Linked DNA regions of Homo sapiens: all the other regions are linked to region 3. Evidence: fine-mapped expression QTL. A gene starts in region 3. Each other region holds a variant in brackets. All regions are shown on one strand. Distances are between the middles of the regions.

Evidence for each region. PIP is the estimated chance that this variant, and not a neighbour inherited with it, causes the effect.
Region 1: its variant is the best candidate, but not a certain one, in a credible set for the expression of LINC00426 in lymphoblastoid cells (TwinsUK, PIP 0.51).
Region 2: its variant is the best candidate, but not a certain one, in a credible set for the expression of LINC00426 in whole blood (TOPMed, PIP 0.70).

Annotation. Positions count from the first base shown.
Region 1 is chr13:30,325,548-30,329,790 of GRCh38, forward strand. The region is part of intron 1 of LOC124903145 (a long non-coding RNA gene); the gene reads left to right. Among named protein-coding and RNA genes, the nearest start is that of LINC00427, 7.8 kb to the left of the region's middle. The variant C/CA (reference allele first, on the strand shown) is at 2,466.
Region 2 is chr13:30,397,299-30,401,541 of GRCh38, forward strand. No RefSeq gene overlaps it. Among named protein-coding and RNA genes, the nearest start is that of LINC01058, 23 kb to the right of the region's middle. The variant T/C (reference allele first, on the strand shown) is at 2,407.
Region 3 is chr13:30,371,995-30,376,237 of GRCh38, forward strand. It overlaps LINC00426 (long intergenic non-protein coding RNA 426), which reads right to left and starts at 1,920. Exons shown (of 5, transcript NR_024464.2): 1 at 1,789-1,920; 2 at 291-380.

The DNA.
Region 1 (4,243 bases), 46 kb before region 3:
TGAGTGCACAGAAGAGCAGGGTGATAAGGCTCCAGTTTTCTGGATGGATAGCCAAAAAGGTGAATCCTGGGAAACTGGAAAGTGCCAGGGAGATGGTAGAGAGAAAGGAGCTTGGGAAAACGAACCCAGACAGTTATTTGCTGGCTTGTGGGCACACCCTTGAGCTGTGCATTCTTGGATTTGATCACAAACATCATAACAGAGACTTTGAGAACTGAATTAACAGCTACATCGCTATCTAGGTCCCATCCTGACCATGAAATAATAGGCACCCAGGAGAAACGTGAACAGGACCACAGTGACTTTGAAAATAGAACTGACATTGCAACCACAACCACAGAAAGCTGATCAGAACTTGCAGTCTAAACCAATTGTGTCAATTGCCTGCTAAAAAAACATAAGTAAATGAACAAACCTGTACAGATTGAAACAAGACCTAGTGTCTCATAATATAATATTCAAAATGCTCATGATATGCTTCAAAACTAGTCGCCATGTGAACCAGGAAAATCTCAACTCATGAGAGAAAAGACAATCAATGGATGTCAATATGAAGAAAACACAAATGTGATAGTTATTTGACAAGAAATTAAAGCGACTTTTATAAAAGTGCTCTAAGAAGTAAGAACCAACACTCTAGAAAGCTTTAGCAAAGAGAATAAAGATTGAGAAAAGTAAAAATTAAAAAAAAAATTAAAAACCACCCAGAACTTCAGGGTCCTGTGAAACAATTCCCCAAAAGCCTAATATTTGTGTCATCAGAGCTCCAAAAGGACAGGAAAAAGTGTGGTACAGAAAAATACTCAAAAAATAAAGACTGGAAACTTCCCAAATTTGGCAAAAAGCACAAACCTATAGAAATTCAGTGAACTCCAAACAGGACAAACCCAGAGGAACCTATGCCCAAACATTCTAATGAAACTGCTAAGAACTAAAACCAGCCCCGAAAATATTAAAACAGTCAGAGAAAACCAACACACTATTTATAGAGGAACAATTAAATGACTGTGGAATTCTCATCTAAAACAATTGGAGGCAAGATGATAAAATGCTGAAAGAAAAAAAATTGTCACCCTAGAATTCTATATTCTAAGAAAATATCCTTCAGGAATGAAGGTGGAATAAGAACATTATCAGATACATGAAAAATAAGAGAATTTTTGGCAGCAGTCGTGCTGTAGAAGAATTACTAAAGAAAGATCTACAGACAGTTACCTCGTGTGAAAGAAACTAGACTCAAAAGGTTATGTACTGTAATGATTTCATTTATATAGCAATTTCAAAAATAAAAATTTGGCAACAGAGAATAGATCAGTGGTTGCTAGGGTTCGGGGTGGGATGAGGGTGTGATTAAAATGGGACAGCATGAAGACATTTTGGTGTGATGAAGCTGTTCTGCAACCTGATTCTCTACACTCATTAAAAGGCGTAGAATTCTACACACACCCAAGGTCAATCTTGCTGCATGTTAATTTTTTTTAGGCCAATAAACAAGAGATGTTCCTCTCTAAGAACCTTCTAGTCTAAATAATACTGAATAATACTTCACCACCTTCCTTGGACACCTGCTTGTGAAGGTCATTGACAAGGCCAATGCCCGGTTGTTTCTGCTGCCCTTGAGTGTGCAGCTCACAGCTGAATTTACCCTCCCCACCTGCCCCACTGCCAGTTCAAGCTCAGAAAATATCACACGTTTGAGCTGAACAATGAATAAGAAGTCAGGAGGCATTTTGTGGGACTGCCCTCTTCTACAAAATCTATAAAGCTCACCTCCCTTCGCCCCTCCTGAGAAACAAGATAAGAAAAAAAACCATTGAACTTATGAAGATCAGGACTTATATATCTAGGTGTCACCTCATCATTGGAGCACCCACTTCTGTGTTTCCTTCCTAGCTGCTGCACCCCAAAATGTGCAGCAAAGCCCCAGCAGGCCCTGGAGCCCCTACCTGCTGCACTACCCTACCACTCCACTGATGTCTAGAGTATTTCTCTTGCAGCAGATATCCTTTTGGTCAAAGTAATAATTGTCCTTTTGTATCAGGTGGTTGGTATTCTTATTTTCGCCTTTGGCAGACCCATAGGAGGAAAAGAGAATCGCATGTTTGCAGGAGAAGGGATAAAATAAAAATAAGACCTTAGGCATTGCTCTAATACTGCAGTTCTGCATTGTTTAAAAACCGTGTTTGTGGCTGGGCGCGGTGGCTCATGCCTGTAATCCCCGCACTTTGGGAGGCCAAGGCGGGAGGATCATGAGGTCAGGAGATCGAGACCATCCTGGCTAACATGATGAAACCCCATCTTTACTCAAAATACACAAAAAATTAGCCAGGCATGGTGGCAGGCACCTGTAGTCACAGCTACTCAGGAGGCTGAGGCAGGAGAATGGCATGAACCTGGGAGGCTGGAGCTTGCAGTGAGCCGAGATCACGCCTCTCCAGCCTGGGCAACAGAGAGAGACTCCATCT[C/CA]AAAAAAAAAAGCAAAACTGTGTTTGTGTGACTCTTTCCCCCTTAAGGCAGGCATTATGCCTTACTCAGTTTTGTGTCTCCAGGGAACTGCACAGTGATAGACATGTGGAGGCACTCATAGAGATATAGGTTGTAAGTAAGTGAATGCATGCACCCATGGCTGAATAAATGAACCGTGTGACTGATACAATTCTGCAAATACAGCAGATGCCCAAGTGGGTCTCTTAGCTCTGACAGCAGGCAAAGGTGGTGGTGATCCAGTGGCCTAGAGAGGGCAGGGTGCCAATGGAGGGCTCCAGTCTGGTAACAGGAAGGCAGGAGAATTGGGCCACAGCAGGCACCTCATCCCCCTGCCCCCCTGCCCCATGGATTGGCACGAGCAGTCCATCTCTAGGCTGAGCAGAAGGAAGGAAATCACAGCAGAAAACATAGTCCTGGTGAGATGCTCTAAAGTCAATATTCGAACGAAAACATCACTCCTCTACAGTGTTTCCTGTTCCATGAGATGCTCCTTCAAATAATGTCCCCTCCTCAAACACGTTTAAAAAACACTCTAGGCTGTGTCTCCTTCTTAAAGATGCACAATACATATTTGCTTATTAAATCCTCTGGAAAGCCGCAGAGTAAAGAAATGTTTAATTTTTTAATATATAGTTGAGGTAGAATGAACATATGCACAGGTCTTGTATTCAACTCAATAATATTTGAGAGTTTAATGCTCAGTTTACTGCTACCCAAAACAAGATGTAGAATATTTCCATCACCCCAGAAAGTTTCTCCATGCCCGATTCCAGCCAACCCACTGTCCGCACTCAGAGACAACCACTGTCTTACCGCTCATCAGCATCATCTGCCTTTGCTTGTTCTTGGACTATGCCACATGTATTTTTGTGTGGCTTGCTTCTTTTGCTCAGTGTGAAGATATTTTAGTTGTGTCAATGCTGTTGTGTATATTAGTAGTTCTTTTTTTCATTGTTGAGTTGTATTGCATTGTGTATGTAAATAAGTGTGATAGATTATATACATCTATATTGTAATATATAGAGAGATTATATATATATATATATATACACACATATCTCATAATTTGTTTATCCATTATCCTGTTGATGGATATTTGGGTGGTTTCCAAGTTTTGACTATAATGAGTAAGGCTGGTATGAACATTCTTATGTAAGTCTTTTTGTAGACATATGTTTTCATTTTTCTTGGGTAAACATGTAGAAGTGAAATTGCTGGACCATAGGGTATATATGTTCAATGTTATAAAAACTGCCAAACAGCTCTCCAAAGTGGTTGCACCTGTTTAACTTTTTAAACTTAGTATTTCCTTTGTTCATTTGACCACAGAGCCCCACAGATCTGTAAAATGAGCAGGTTGGACCAGACAGCTTTTAAGATTCTTTCCAGCTTTATGCAGTGATAGAGGCCAAGGCATTCAGGAGTGGAGTTGATCAAGGTCAGGATTTGTCTTCTTTCATAAATCGTGTAGGCAAGAGCAAATGACACGAAACCCAGAATAACCAAATGTTGGGAGTAGGAAGATAGAAAACATTGCTGAGTCCAGGGAGTGGAGAAGAGGTAATAACTAGCAGGTAGTCACCTGGACAGAGGCATGAAAGAGGAAATATTTAAGCCAGAAGGAATCTGAGGTAGAAACAATTAAAGCAGAAACCACGGTATACAGAAGACTCCGGCAGTGTTTAAGAAGTTTCTTTGGCCCAGGGGCATCAATAATGATAAGACATTCAGAAAACTCTTCAAGACCACTGTTTTCA
Region 2 (4,243 bases), 25 kb after region 3:
CAAAAGTAGGATTGGTGGATATATGGTAATTCTGTTTAATTTTTTCGAGGACCCACCGTACCGCTTTCCATAGAGGCTGTGCCATTTGTTTTTTCTAGAGATGGGTCTCCCTTTGTAGCTCAGGCTGGAGTGCAGCGGTGAAATCAAAGCTCACTGTCACCTCGAACTCCTGGGCTCAAGGAATCCACCCACCTCAGCCTCTCCCCGAGTAGCTGGGGCTACAGGTGTATGCCATCATACTTGGCAAAAAAATAAAAAATAATTTGTAGAGATGGATCTCACCATCTTGCCTAGGCTGGTCTGAAACTCCTGGGCTCAAGCAATCCCACCTGAGACTCCCAAAGTGCTGGGATTATAGGCATGAGCCACCACGTCTGGCTGAGGCTGTGCCATTCTGACCCTGTTGGTGGTTCAGGTCTTTGTAAGAGGTGAGCTTGAAAAAGACATAAATTTTATTCTTTGATTTTCTAAAGACTCACTAATGCTGGACATGGTACCTTGTTTCTGCCTTAGGCTCTCCTTCTACAGAGGGAAGATGGCCGTTACTATCTCTCTCAGGAAAACAAGGAACTATGGCAAGTGTTGTTGAGATAGGCTGGGAGAAATTTAGTTCAAAATATGGTATATGGCCGGGCGTGGTGGCTCACGCCTATAATCCCAGCACTTTGGGAAGCCGAGGCAGACTGATCACCTGAGGTCAGGAGTTCGAGACCAGCCTGGCCAACATAGTGAAACACCATCTCTACTAAAAATAAAAAAATAAAAAAAAAAATAGCCGGGTGTGGTGGTGCACACCGTAGTCCCAGCTACTTGGGAGGCTGAGGCAGGAGAATCACTTGAACCCGGGAGGCGGAGGTTGCAGTGAGCTGAGATTGCACCACTGCACTCCAGCCTGGGTGACAAAGTGAGACTCCGTCTCAAAAAAAAAAAAAAATACAGTATACCCTCATCCTAAGTTTTGGGGTCAGAGACTGTGCTGTCCCTTCCTCCATCATGAACTGTGCCCCTCTTTCCAATGCATAGGTCAAGGTTAGGGATGGCCATAGGGCCACTTTTGGGGGCCTAAGTTCTGATATCTGCATTGCTCACCAGACATGTATGTCAAGGACCTTCTCTGAGACAATGCTGCTTTTATAAAATACCATCCTTAGCCAGCAGACATATCTTGCCTGCATTTCTGACTTCTGTTTCAGCTCACCATCTTCCTTTTCCTTTGGTGTGGGCTACACGTCTAGAGGGAAGAGAAGCCATTGAATGTCTGTCAAAATCCAGCCAAGATTTCACTAAGAATATGCTAGCTGTATCCTTTCTCTCAGTCTCCCCCTTCCTGACCTCCTGGCCAGCGCTGACTCAGGATAGCAGAGGCTCTGCCAATTTCAGGGCACGCTTTTGCTCTCTGTTCAGTCACAGACCCACGTTAGGCCCTGTCAAAGCAGGAGAGGCCCTACACCTCTCTCATGAGGCACATAAGCAGTATTGGCATGCTGTTCTTTGGAAGGTTCCCCACAACTGTCCCTCGGCCCTCTGGCACTTTGGACAGGCTGGCCTTTTGGGCATTACCTGCCAGAGTCTCCGGAGTGTCCTCTGAGACTGGCTATGGGGAAACAGGGAAGGGGAAGGTGCTGGCGCTCATGCTGGAATAGTGCAATGTTTTGATCAAAGTTCACAGAGTGATCACTCCAGAGTAGCTGTGCTGTGTTTTTAGTCATGCTGACAGCAGCGAAGTGGCCTCTACACAAAGCCTTCTCTTGGTGCAGGATCAGAAACAGGGCTGGAGGGGGAGAACTCCTCGGTGCCGACTTACAAGGTCCCTAAGAAACAAGATCCCACCCGTATCTCCCAACAAAGGTTCAACTCTTGTTTCTGAAGCATGTGCTGCTAAATTAATTAGTCCTTAGTGGCCAGGAGAGAAGGGCCCTTGGTCATTGTAGCCATGCGGGTAATGCCCCACTGTCCCCACTCTCCCAGCCCCATCAGAGTAATACCCTACTACCCCCACTCTCCCAGCCCCATCAGGCCCCAGGGCTTGGCCTCTTGGAGGTGACTTACCCCTCTGGAGTGAGGCTCCATGAGGGCAGGGCCCCCTCTCTCTTAATCACTCTTGCATCCCTGACACCTGCAATCGTGCCCTGCAGAGAAAACATTCAATCAATATTTGTGGAATGAGTGAATCCATCACTGCAATTTTCTGTCCTGGGCTGGAGAATGGGCTTGCCTTCTCTTTAGAAGACAGTAACTGATGGCCTCGATGGAAAAGAGACAGATTCTCTCTATGTTGCCCAGGCTGGTCTTGAACTCCTGGGCTCAAGTGATCCTCCCACATTGGTCTCCCAAAGTGTTGGGATTACAGGCATGAGCCACCACGCCTGGCCTCACCTATTAAGAAACAGATTTTGCAGTAGGTTA[T/C]GGGAAATTCTAGATGGAGTATTAGCACAGGAGCTGGGCTTGATGGGATATGAAGGAAAAAGGTCCCAGGAAGCATGATAGGAGAAAATGAGACAGCAAGTTTCAGATGTTCTCTGCCTTGATTTTATGACAACATACAATAGAATAGGGCATGTTACAAGAAACCATAAAGAATATTCCAAACGTTTTTTTTCTTTTGAGACGGAGTTTTCACTCTTGTTGCCCAGGGTGGCTTACAGTGGTGTGATCTTGGCTCACTGCAACCTCCGCCTCCAGAGTTCAAGTGATTCTCCTGCCTCAGCCTCCTGAGTAGCTGGGATGACAGGTGCACACCACTACGCCCAGCTAATTTTTTTGTATTTTTAGTAGAGATGGGGTGTCACCATGTTGACCAGGCTGGTCTCAAACTCCTGATCTCAGGTGATCTGCCCACCTCAGCCTCCCAAAGTGCTGGGATTACAGGCGTGAGCCACCACGCCCGGTCAAGAATATTTCACACTTATATAAAGCATGTACTAAATAACTCTAAGTAAATAGGATCCATAACTTGTTAGCTTGAATGCAAGGTAAAAATAAAATACAAATAAATAAAACAAAATAAATAAACAGGGTATTTTGAGTTGCTAGAAAAGAAAGAAAACCCTCATTTGGAAAAACCACAGGCCTCCTTGGAAGAAGTTAAGCTGGTGGTTAGGATGGGATCAAATTGTTGTCTTTATTAACAGCTGACAGTTGCTGTGAGTAAAACTCTGATCAACCCATAAACCCAAAAGCAGATCAGATGTGGGAGAGTTCTCCTTCAGCTTTCCAGCAAACTTGTCTCCTGCTTCAACCAAGTCAGACCTGGGCTGAGCCTGCAATGAAGAGCCTCAGGTCAGAGTCCAAAAAGTCATTAGGAAAAACATATGAATGGTAAAGCCACAAATAAAGATACCACCTAACTTCTCTACCTAGTGCCTCATGTAATTGTCAGGCTACAGGAAAGAGCGCTTACTTAACTCTGCGCTTGGCACTTGACAAATGTTTATTGGCTACCATTATTATTGTCATTATTGTTATACTGATGTGCCACAGATATAGCCATTAACTTTCCAAGTCCCAAATTAGAAACCTCTGGTGTAAAATTTGTTGGGTGCAGTGGCTCATGCCTGTAATCCCAACACTTTGGGAGGCTGAGGTGGGTGGATCACAAGGTCAAGAGATGGAGACCATCCTGGTTAACATGGTGAAACCCTGTCTCTACTAAAAATACAAACATTAGCCAGGCATGGTGGCGGGCGCCTGTAGTCCTAGCTACTCAGGAGGCTGAGGCAGGAGAATCACTTGAATCCAGGAGGCGGAGGTTGCAGTGAGCCAAGATCGTGCCACAGAGCGAGACTCGGTCTCAAAAAAAAAAAAAGTGTACATATACTCAGAGAACAAGATAGGCTACTTTGATCCAAGACTATCTAGAAAATTTCAGGCTGTGTGTAGCCCTTTTCATGGGCTCACTGTTGACAACCACTCCAGCCTAGTTGTGAAACTTACCCAAGTTCGTGTATTTTTGAGGGTACACAGGGTAGTGGTTCATCCAGCAAATCTAAATCCCAGTTGTTGCATTCAATTCAATTCAAACCACACATTGAGTACCTAAATGTAAAATATTGAGCAGGGTGCTCCGAGGAATAGAAAAATGAAAAAGATGGCCCTGTCACTCAGACGCTCAAATCGTCAAGTCGTGGGGAGGCTACCAGGCACAGGTACACAAATAACTCTAATTCAAGGCAGACAGCCCCAAGTGACACACAGAAGTATAAAAAGAAAATGCACTGGGAATGTGATGGCCTGAGGGATTAAT
Region 3 (4,243 bases):
GGCTCAGGAGCCTTTGCGCTTGACTTTGAAAGATTATAAATACACCAGGCTCGCCAAGCATAGCCAGTCAGTTACAAATTACGAGTCATCTTTCGGTTGTTGCTGAACTTCCTTTACACCTCTTGTTTTGAACACAGTGAGCAAACAACGTCTAATCTTTTGGCTGTGGAGTTCCAAGTACACCACAAGGCATCGGGACACACCTTTACCCCAGCTGCTTTGTGTGGTTGCAGGTTAACCAGACATGCAGCTAGGAGTTCACCTAAAACCTTCCTTTCCCCGGTACATACCTTGGTGTTGATTTGACAGCTGGATGCTGAGTATTGATCCCAGTGTTCAGGGATAGTTACTTCATTAAGACTTCTGAGATCCCCCATTTGCTTGAAGATAAAAACAGGCAAAGGTATAAACAGATAAACAGTCACACAAATAAGTAGCTGTGTGGGCCATTACTTTTAAAGCATAGTAGATGTTATTTGTGTTTGGAGAAGCTTAATGATACACTCAAGAATCCAATAGTAGAAACTGTTTGCTTTCAGGAAGAAAACGTTATATCAGGAAGGTATGTTTGAAGAAAAGAACTATATAACAGCGATCCACAATACACCTGTTCATTTGTAGCATAATAGTTACACCTGCTCCCTGGGGCTTTTTTGAGATTTCAGTCTTTGGTGTAAGACACACATACACACATGTGCACACACAATGGTAAGCATGCATGCTCTTCAGCTTCAACCCTCAGTGCGCAGTAAAATAAAAAATATAGTTGAATCATCTGTCTCAGCCCCAGCTAGAGCCCACGTCTTCCAACATGAATTTTAAAATACCTTTTTGCCTTTTAAAATATGCTGTAGAGGCCGGGCGCGGTGGCTCACGCCTGTAATCCCAGCACTTTGGGAGGTCAAGGCAGGCAGATCACGAGGTCAGGAGATGGAGACCATCCTGGCTAACAAGGTGAAACCCCGTCTCTACTAAAAATACAAAAAAGATTAGCTGGGCGTGGTGGCAGGTGCCTGTTGTCCCAGCTACTCAGGAGGCTGAGGCAGGAGAATGGCGTGAACCCGGGAGGCGGAGCTTGCAGTGAGCCGAGATCGCGCCACTGCACTCCAGCCGGGGCAACAGAGCGAGATTCCATCTCAAAAAAAAAAAAAATGCTGTAGATGAGTTTTAGTTTATCCGGGTCCTTTGTAATTAATCTCTGCATTCATCATAATTGGAAGAAAAGCTCAAAGTAAGAAAATAGCTTTCCTCCAAGTTTATTGCAATCAGAGAAAAATACAATTTAAATGTTTTTGTTTCCCATTTCTGTTCCTTACATGCATTGTCTAGAGTGGTTCCTGGTCTATAAGCCAGTGGGTTGAGATACCTGACCAGACCACCTTTTCAACCCAGTTCTTTCTCCTCTTTGTATTTCTCCCATACAATACAGTATTGAATATTTCATAACCTATGGGTGTATGTTTTTGGCAATGTGGCTAAGTCAGGCAGCATTGAGGACTGTCCTGGTGACAGTCCGGTGCAGCCCTCACCCAGGCTCCCACATTCACACCCCTCCACTCTCCAGTGGGCTGTGTAAGTTAACGGCAAATAAATGGCCCAGAATGGCTTCCTGTTAGAGAAAAAAAGGGACAAAGACTTCTGCCCTTAAAACTCTGGTAACAAAAGTAATCTAGTGGAAATCAACATTACTAGGAATATCCTATGATTTTGGTGGTGTTGAGTTCAAAGACAGCATGGCCGAATTGTGACCATCCACCCAGTCACATGAGGCAAAAACCCAGGCCCTACCTGTGTCCTGACCTCCAGCTTCCTCCCCACGGCCAGTTGGTTAGAACGTGTAGGGAGTGTACCTCTCCCAGCCGTGGAATCCCCTCACCATCTTCACCCCTTCCCCACCTTCAAAGACTTTCATGGCCGAGTGTGGTCTGACCACACTTGATCCAAAGCCCTTCCTCTGAGCTCTCAGCTCCACGTCACAACCTCGTGACCACGTGCCTCTCACTGTCATGTGCTTAGATATGTGTGTGTGTGTCCACCTCACCACACACTGTGAGATCCTTGAGGGCACGTTGTCTCTTTCATTTCTGTGTCTCCAGTGCCTAAAATGGAAAGTGCTCACTTACTAAATAAATATACAATATAAAAAATAATTTTTATCCCTTGTCCCATTTGAGATGGAAAATGAGTAAAGTTTACAAGTATTAATATAGTCAGCATCCCACTAAGACCACACAGACACTGAGATGAGCAGAGGATGCTGAGGAGCAAATGCAAAATAAACTATGAGAACTGTGACAGCTTCCAGTGCTCTTCATTATAAATATCAGCAATTGCTAATATCCAATAACATGTCACACACTCTACATTAAATCATCACAAGTCTCTAAGGCAGGTGTTAGTTTTCTCTTTGTACAGCCCAAGAAGCTGAGACAAGAGTCACACAACCAGCCAATAGAGAGAAAAGATTCAAACCCGGAGACCTTCTGTCTCTAATCCCACCCTCCTCCCACTGTCTCCTGCTGCCTCTCTGTTTCAAAGCTTGGCTCTGAGACTATGAGCACTGCCAAAATTTTACAACAGTTTGCGTATGTCATGGTCTGCAAAAGCTGTGGATGGCACTGTGGTGGCAGCCTCAATAGAAGGCTGAGACTACTTACCAGAGGGAGGATTTCCTGAGCTCCGATCACACCTGCTCTTTGTTCTCTCTCTGTCTGTCTCTCTGTGTGTGTCTCTCTCTCTCTCTCTCTCTCTCTCTCTCTCTCTCTCTCTCTCTCTCAATACAGACAGGGTCTCACTCTATTGCTCATGCTGGAGTGCAGTGGCGTGATCATAGCTCACTGCAGCCTCAAAGTCCTGGGCTCAAGTGATCCTCCTGCTTCAGTCTCCTGAGTAGCTGGGACTACAGGCATGCACCACCAGGCCTGGCTAATTTATTTATTTTTATTTTAATTTTGTAGAGACAAGGTCTCGTCCCTTCCCCAGACTGATCTCGAACCCCTGGGCTCAGGAGATCCTCCCACCTCGGCCTCCCAAAGTGCTGGGATTACAGATGTGAGCCACCACTCCTGGCCCACACCTACTCTTTATCCTCAACCCACACCCCCAGGCTCAAACTCAAAAGGAAGGAGCAAACCCTAGAAGCTGCGTAAAACACACCTTGACCTAAAATGTGCTCATGACCAGGCAACTTGACTACATATTCTCCTCGACCTACGGTGGAGTGACATCCCTATAAAAGCCATTGTAAATTGAAAATATTGAAAGTCTAAAATGCTTTGAATACACCTAACCTATCGAATATCAGAGCTCAGCCTCGCCTCCCTTAAACGTGCTCAGAACACTTACATTAGCTTACAGTGGGCAACATAATGTAACACAGGCCTATCTATGTTATAATACAGTGTTGAGTATCTCATGTGATTTATTGAATACTGTACTGAATGTGAAACAGAATGGTTGTCCGGGTACTCACCATTAGCTGACACAGCTGAACGCACACTGCGCCTGAAGAGCGTTTGAAGCATTGAACTAAAATTAATTGCTGGGTGATGGGGATGCTACAACGACAGGGTCATCAATTTCTCTCTCTTCTGCTGAGGCTGGAGAACCACGGGTAGAAGGCGCTGGAGCATCAACGCTTGATGGTTTGGCAGGCGTAGTGCTCTTCCTTCAGGAAGGCATCAGGTGTCCGTGGTTTACCCTTCTGATGGCAGGGCTGCCTGGGTGCTTTGGCTCACAGCCATGCCCAGCATCAGGAGAGTGTCATACAGCATATCCCTTGCCTGTGGGATAAAGGCCAGTCTTCAGAATCCGAAGTGCACTTTTTGTTTTTTTTTTTTGAGACGGAGTCTCACTCTGTTGCCCAGGCTGGAGTGCAGTGGCATGATCTTGGCTCACTGCAACCTCCACCTCCCAGGTTCAAGCGATTCTCCTGCCTCAGCCTCCTGAGTAGCTGGGACTACATGCGTGTGCCACCATGCCTGGCTAATTTTTGTATTTGTAGTAGAGACGGGGTTTCACTGTGTTAGCCAGGATGGTCTCAATCTCCTGACCTCATGATCCACCCTTCTCGGCCTCCCAAAGTGCTGGGATTGCAGGCGTGAGCCACCGCGCCCAGCCCTGAAGTGCACTTTCTGCTAAATGCCTGTCACTGTCATACCATCCTAAAGTTTAAGCTGGAACTCTCTATGCTTGCACCTGTTGCCTGAAGGGTGTATTAGAAATAATAGTTTCCTCCAACCCC